Homo sapiens: one gene and its partner. The protein of the gene in region 1 purifies or fractionates together with the protein of each later gene. This does not show direct contact. Each region holds a gene or a part of one and is shown on either strand. Other genes may lie near its edges.

Region 1 (3,822 bases):
TTTAGCCCAGTGCCTGGCACATCTTAAGTGCTCAATAACTGATGGCTTATAAAACAAAAACAAAAAGCAAGCAAACAACACTAACCCCCTCTTGCTCCTGCACTTGAGTAACCAACCCTAAAGGATGGAACTTATCATTCTCCAAAAATGCAGGCAACAACCATGTGAACATTTCCTTTTGGAGAACTGTAGTCAGTTTCCTTCCTGTTTCACTTTATCAGTGGGTAGGGATAAAGAATTAAGGGACACACAGGCCAATTACAAGTGACATTTTCACAAACACAATGATCCCATCAGGCTTAACTCTTCTAAATTTGTCACAAAAAACAATGGAAGGCCGGATGTGGTGGATCACCCCTGTAATCCTAGTACCTTGGGAGGCTGAGGCAGGTGGAGCGCTTGAGCCCAGGATTTTGAGACCAGCCTGGGCAACAAAATGAGACCCTGTCTACAAAAAATACAAAAATTAGCTGGGAGTGGTGGTGTGTGCCTGTCATCCCAGCTACTTAGGAGGCTGAGGTGGATTGCTTGAGCCTGGGAAGCAGAGGTTGCAGTGAGCTGAGACCTCGACACTGCACTTAGCCTGGGCATCAGAGTGAGATCCTGTCTCAAAAAAACAAAACAAAACAAAACAAAAAAACCAAAATAAAACCAAAAACAACAAAAAACTAAAAACAACAGAAGGCACCACATTCCTAGTACCTTTAAGCATTTCTGGGGTCATGCTGAACAGTGTAAAAATTTTAACCCACTATTTTTCTCTTTCTCATTATACAAATGAAACAAATGTTCCTAAATATTTGGAAAGTTGAGAAACGTATAAAGAAATGGAGAAGGCCAGGCGCAGTGGCTCATGCCAGTAATCCCAGCACTTAGGGAGGCCGAGGTGGGTGGATCACGAGGTCAGGAGTTCAAGACCAGCCTGGCCAAGACGGTAAAACCCCGTTTCTGCTAAAACTACAAAAATTAGCGAAGCACAGTGGCAGGCACCTGTAAACCCAGCTTACTCAGGAGGTTGAGTCAGGAGAATCACTTGAAGCCGGCAGCAGAGGTTGCAGTGAGCCAAGACTGCGCCACTGCACTCCAGCCTGGGCGACGGAGTAAGACTCCGTCTCAAAAAAAAGAAAAAAAAAAAAGAAGTGGGGGAAAAAAACCTACCCGTATATATAATCTCACTACCTAGATGCAATTTAATACTAGTAACTTGAATAATTTCCTTCCAGTCTTTTTATGCTATATATTCAATTTTATATCCCCTTTCCCTATGTTTCCTCTCATGACATTTAAAAACATTATTTTATTTGATAAATCTAGTTTTTCATAGCTTTAGAATATTCTCCCAATAATGGTCATATTTAGGTTGTTTCCAATTTTTTCTTATTATATTAGCACTATGCTCATCTTTGTGACTAAAACCCTATCTCATTTTTTATCCTTTTCTTAGGGTGACAAATAAGAATGTGTACTTTCTCTCTTTTTTTTTTAACACTCACATGCTTATAATTGCTTGTTTAGTGCTGAGCTGCACTGAATCTTTGTTAACTGAATAGGTTAAATGGTATTTTATTGCTGCTTTATTATATATTTTCTTGATTATTAGAAAGGTTAAATATTTTTTCAATATTAGCCACTTATGGTATCTCTTTTATGAATTCTTTTTTTCTTTTTTTCTTTTTTTTTGAGGCAGAGTCTTGCTCTGTCTCCCAGGCGGGAGTGCAGTGGCGCAATCTTGGCTCACTGCAAACTCTGCCCCCCGGGTTCACGCCATTCCCCTGCCTCAGCCTCCTGAGTAGCTGGGAATACGCGCGCTGGTCACCACACCCGGCTGATTTTTTTTGTATTTTTAGTAGAGACGGGGTTTCACCGTGTTAGCCAGGGTGGTCTCGATCCCCTGACCTCATGATCCGCCCGCCTCGGCTTCCCAAAGTGCTGGGATTACAGGCATGAGCCACCGCGCACAGCCTCTTTTATGAATTCTCTAATCATGTCTCTTTTATCATTTTCTTTCTTTCTTTTTTGAGATAGAGTCTCGCACTGCCACCCAGGCTGGAATGCAGTGGTGCTATCTTGGCTCACTGCAACCTCCACCGCCAGGTTCAAGCTATTTTCCTGCTTCAGCCTTCCAAGTAGCTGGGACTACAGGTGCACGCCACCATGCCTGGTTAATTTTTGTATTTTTAGTAGAGACAGGGTTTCACCATGTTGGCCAGGCTGGTCTCGAACTCCTAACCTCAGGTAATCCACCTGCCTTGGCTTCCCAAAGTGTTGGGATTACAGGCATGAGCCACTCTGCCCAGTCTCTGTTTTCATTTTCTATCAGGGTTTACATGTTTTTGTATGAGCTCTCTATATAAAATATATTAACCATCTAAGAATTTATTACAAACATTTGTTGTATGAATTGAAAAATTAATTCATACTATATTCTCTTGAAAATTATGATTTTAATATTCCTCCCAGAGTCTGAACCTGGCTGTCACTATAGTCATCTGTTCAAGCAGCCTACCTGAGAGTTTGAGCCAGAATCTTCTTTTTTGGTTTTCAGTGGTACCTTTGTGCCTACATTAAAAAAACAAACAAACACAAGAAGTCAGAACATTAGATGTGAAGGCCACATAGTATTAAAAACAAATGGTTGAGGTGGGAGGTGGGAGTGAAGACTCTGGGATTCCACTCCGGTCTCTTCATGTATTGTCTATGTTGCGTTAACCTGTACTAACTTCACTGAGCTTGTTTAGTTAATTGTAAACACAACTATTTATAGTCTATATACATTAGTAACAGTCTATAGTTCATTTCTGTTTAAAAGTCTTTGCTATTTATTTATTAGATACAGAGTCTGGCTCTGTTGCCCAGGCTGGAGTGCAGTGGTACAATCATAGCTCACTGCAGCCTTGAACTCCTGGTCTCAGGCAATCCGCCCACCGTGGCCTCTCAAAGTGTTGGAATTACAGGTCTGAGCCATCATACCCAGCCTCTTTGCCATTTCTTATATGAAGCTATTGCTAATTACCTAAAATACCAAAACCAGCTCTTTGAGAGATGCCCACAAATAATGTCTATCCCACACAAATTCCCATTTTAAAATCAGTTTTCCTTCTACCGTAAAAATATGGCAATATGGATTATTATACAGCTTAAGTATAATGATATTATTTGGTTTATTTGAATTAGGACATAACATAATAAAAAAAATTCTCTATACTCACTTAAAACATTTGCACCAGAGGTGGGATAATCCTCAACAGGCTCCACAAAGTTCAGGGGGAAAATCCCAGTTCTGCCTCGAACTTCTCCTCTGGCCCATTCCTCATTCACATACTCTTTAAGAATAATAATTTCTCCCTCTGAGAAACTCAACTCATCCTTCTGCTCTCCAATATATTCAAACCGAGCAACACATCTTGAGCCTCTGAATGAAGAACACATTTTGTGGATTAGACTAGAGAGTGCTTTTAAAATGCTTAAAAACCTTCATTCAGTCTTTCAATAAATATTTATTCTGGGTTTACCATGGAATAAGGTATACTAGGCTAATTTGAAATTATTCCATGAAAAAGAGTAAGTTACACTTTTAAGTAACAGATATGAACCTATTCACTCAGAAAGGCTGAAGCTCAAGGTCGCGGAGTGCACGCAGCTGGGTGGTTAGTTTACCCTGCTGTGTCTTTTGATCTTCTTACTCCCCAGTCTCCGTATGTTTGTATCCTTGGGCCACAGCAATCCGTGGTCCAGTCTGAACCCTTCCAATCATAAATGCACTGAGTTGAGGAGTGCTAACCCTGAGAATCTCAGGGCAATTAATCAAATTTTCTGACTACT
Region 2 (3,822 bases), on another chromosome or scaffold:
AGCAGCCTTGCAGTGATAATGCAATCAAATAAACAGAAACAAAGAATAAAACATTTAAAGACTGGATTCCATTCATCTTACCATCAGTAAAAAAATATGATCTGGTCCCATCTTGTCTAACATAAAAGTTTTCTCCAAGTTTGCTGCTGGCTTTAAACCTAAGCATGGCATGATCATACAGTCCGTAGTCACGAAACAAGACACTTTTGCCTGGTTTTAATACCTATGAAACAAAAGCAGGCTGAACATGACTTTGGAGAACCCTGTCAAAATAAAACCTGATTAAGTTAGGACTTAAAATAAATTTGTGATAGTTACTAAGGGGACAGACTGAAATGCCCATAATACGGAACCAAAATGGCCTACTACTTAAAAAGATAGTAAGACCAGGCAGGGCTCCATAACACTAAGACACTTCTTTTTTTTTTTTTTTTGAGATGGAGTCTTGCTCTGTCGCCCAGGCTGGAGTGCAGTGGCATAATCTCAGCTCACTGCAACCTCCGTCTCCCACGTTCAAGTGATTCTCGTGTCTCAGCCTCCCGAGTAGCTGGGATTATAGGTGCCCGCCACCATGCCCGGCTAATTTTTGTATTTTAGTAGAGATGAGGTTTCACCATGTTGGCCAGGCTAGTCTCGAACTCCTGACCTCAAGTAATTTGCCCACCTCAGTCTCCCAAAGTTGGGATTACAGGCGTGAGCCACCTCGCTCGTCCCTGAAGACAATTCTTGAGTACCTCCAAGAGCACCCTGGAATGTCCAGTGTCACAGGATTAAAATGTTAGAGACCAACCTGGGCAATATAGTGAGACCCCATCTCTACACAAAAATTAAAAATTAGCTGGATCTGGTAGTGCGTCCTGTAGTCCCAACTACTTCAGAGGCTGAGGTGGGAGAACTGCTTGAGCCCAGGAAGTTGAGGCTGCAGTGAGCCACGTCCATGCCACTGCACTCCAGCCTGAGTGACACAGCAAGACCCTGTCTCAAAAATAAATAAATAAGTGTTAGAGACAATAAATGAAAGTGTTATCCTCATTGAAGCACTTTCTTGCAACATTTTATTCACCATCTCCTAGTACTCAAACTGTATTCAACTGTCTCTTAAAAAAACAAACAAACAAACAAACAAAAAACCAGAATGTCGTTTTGGCTCTTTACTGATTCAGGTTGGTTTTCCTCATTCTGAGCCTCAGCTCTCATTTCATTGTGCCACAATGTATAGCTCAATCACGGTGCTAATGACTGATACATGCCTAGCATTTGACTGCTTAACCATACATTTTCTCATTGTATCTTCACCCAACTGTGGGACAAAGGAATGTGATTATTATTCTCACATGAGACACGGAAACCAATACTCAACAGGGTTAAGTGATCTGCCAATGATCATACATTAGCTTTTTTTAGACAAGGTCTTGCTATGTTGGCCAGGCTGGTTTCAAACTCCTGACCTCAAGTGATTCACCTGCCTTGGCATCCCAAAGTGTTGGGATTACAGGCATGAAACACCACACCTGGCCAAACTGTGTACTCTTGACCACTAAACCATAACTCCTCTCACCTTATAGCAGGACTCCATGGATCCCAGGTAACTGCAAAATCATCCTTGTCCCAGGGCTGGCGAAGCTCTGAAGAGCAGCCATGGCACTGCACAAATCAGAATTTAGGGTGGATGTTTTATGCCAGAGGACCCCTTTCTATACACTCACTACACAGCCTACCTAGTGAGAATGGAGAGACTATGTGAATCTAGACAGTACATGAGCCTCATGAGGGAAGGTAAGTAAAAGAATCCAGACTGTCCAACCCTCAAGTGCAGGCCCCAAATCACTAACCTTGTAAATGTTTTGTAAGACAAGGTGCATCTTATCAGGATGAACAGCTGACAGCACAAATATCAACATAACAACATCCACAGACTCTGGCGGTACATGATCCAGAAGATCATCTTTAGTCAGATCACACTGGAATACCTTGCATCTTTCTGTATCATATAAAGGATTTTGCTACAGGGGGAAGAAATACAAATGAATTTTAATGCAACCACTAGGCTGATACATATAGAAAAATACAACATCAAAAGGCGATCCAATTTCCACTTGTATACATAGAAATTATCACTGTTACCAGATAAAACTGATTAATAAATCACTCACTATAAAGCATGTAATATTCACTACTGCTACAGGAGCAAGACTTCATTTTAATAAATCATTTTTAACTGAGGAGACAATAAGAGTATCACGTACTCAAAACTGAGCATTTTAGAAGCATATTATTTCCAGAGGGATGATGATCCAAAACTGGCCTCTGCTTCTTTTTGTTTTTTAAAGAGACAGGGTCTCACTCTGTCTGCTGGGCTAGAGTGCAGTGGCATGATCATGGTTCACTGCAGCCTTCACCTCCTGAGCCCAAGTTATCCTCCCACTTCAGCCTCCTAAGTAGCTGGAACTACAGGTGTGCACCACTGCATCTGGCTAAATTTTTATTTTTATTTTTGTAAAGATGGGATCTTGCTATGTTGTACAGGCTAGTCTTGAACTCCTGGCCTCAAGTGATCCTCCCACTTCAGCCTTCCAAAGTGCTGGGATTACAGGCATGAGCCACTATGTCCTGCTGGCCTCTGGCTTCCTTAATCCTCCTTTGAATCATCTGCTTAAAGCCTAAACCCTATGAGAAGCCCTTCTAATTCCCCTTGATGAGATGCTCCCGCAGTTCTTCTGGGGTATATTTTCTCTTTATGCAGCAAGCTAAATAAACTTAACCTTTTTTTGACTACAAATGTGTTCCTGGTACATTTTGGTTGGTAGGCTTCAACACATGTATAGGAGTATTATGAAGAAAAACATTAAACTTCTATTTCATGTAAATGAGGACCTGAATAAATAGATATACAAAGTTACTGGATGGGAAAATTAAATGCAAAATTAAAAAGATGTCAATTCTATTCATAATTCCATTTGTAAATCCAATGCAATCTAAACTGATTCCCAACAGATTTCTAGAAACTAGACAGGGTGAATCTAATTCATCATAAAGTAAAAATCTTTAAGAATAGCCAAGTCAATTTTTAAAATGATGAACAATGAGGTAGGTATGGTGGCTCATGCCTGTAATCCCAGCAACCTGGGAGACTGAAGTGAAAGGATCGCTTGAGTTCAAAGCTGCAGTGAGCTATGATCCATGCCACTGCAAGCTAGCCTGGAAAACAGAGCAAGATCTCATCTTTAAAAAAATAGGCCAGGTGCGGTGGCTCACGCCTGTAATCCCAGCACTTTGGGAGGCCAAGGCAGGTGGATCATGAGGTCAGGAGTTTGAGACCAGCCTGGCCAATATGGTGAAACCCCATCTCTACTAAAAATACAAAAATTAGCTGGGCGTGGTGACCCGCACCTGTAGTCCCAGTTACTGGGAAGACTGAGGCAGAAGAATCGCTTGAACCTGGGAGGCGGAGGTTGTAGTGAGCCGAGATCATGCCACTGCACGCCAGCCTGCATGATAGAGACTCTGTCTCAAAAATAAATAAATAAATAAATAAATAAATAAATAAAATAGAATGAAGAATAATAAAGGAGAAGATACACTACTGGATATCAAAATATATTACAAAACGTAGTAATAAAACAACATGGTTTGAGAATGGAGACAAATGTATCACTGAGACAAAACAGAGTCCCAAAACAGACCTGTATATACTGTATATATAAACAGGAATTTTGTATATTATATGATAAAAGATAGACAAAGGTGACAATTAGACAAAAAGGTAGATAATAAAGATGACAATTATGAGTGAGGAAAAAATTTCTCATTCAATTTACTGTG

The links.
Region 2: the proteins of SH3D19 (region 1) and METTL6 fractionate together in Homo sapiens (co-fractionation; one large-scale study listed by BioGRID). This does not show direct contact.

What each region holds. Positions count from the first base shown.
Region 1 is NC_000004.12:151,129,825-151,133,646, forward strand, and holds part of SH3D19 (SH3 domain-containing protein 19), read right to left. Parts: intron 3,413-3,822; coding exon 3,210-3,412; intron 2,560-3,209; coding exon 2,507-2,559; intron 1-2,506. UniProt on the Homo sapiens protein: May play a role in regulating A disintegrin and metalloproteases (ADAMs) in the signaling of EGFR-ligand shedding. May be involved in suppression of Ras-induced cellular transformation and Ras-mediated activation of ELK1.
Region 2 is NC_000003.12:15,413,940-15,417,761, forward strand, and holds part of METTL6 (tRNA N(3)-cytidine methyltransferase METTL6), read right to left. Parts: intron 2,004-3,822; coding exon 1,833-2,003; intron 1,719-1,832; coding exon of another isoform or gene 1,695-1,718; exon of another isoform or gene 1,680-1,694; intron 1,645-1,679; coding exon of another isoform or gene 1,559-1,644; intron 976-1,558; coding exon of another isoform or gene 870-975; exon of another isoform or gene 224-869; coding exon 82-223; exon of another isoform or gene 7-81; coding exon of another isoform or gene 1-6. UniProt on the Homo sapiens protein: S-adenosyl-L-methionine-dependent methyltransferase that mediates N(3)-methylcytidine modification of residue 32 of the tRNA anticodon loop of tRNA(Ser), including tRNA(Ser)(UGA) and tRNA(Ser)(GCU).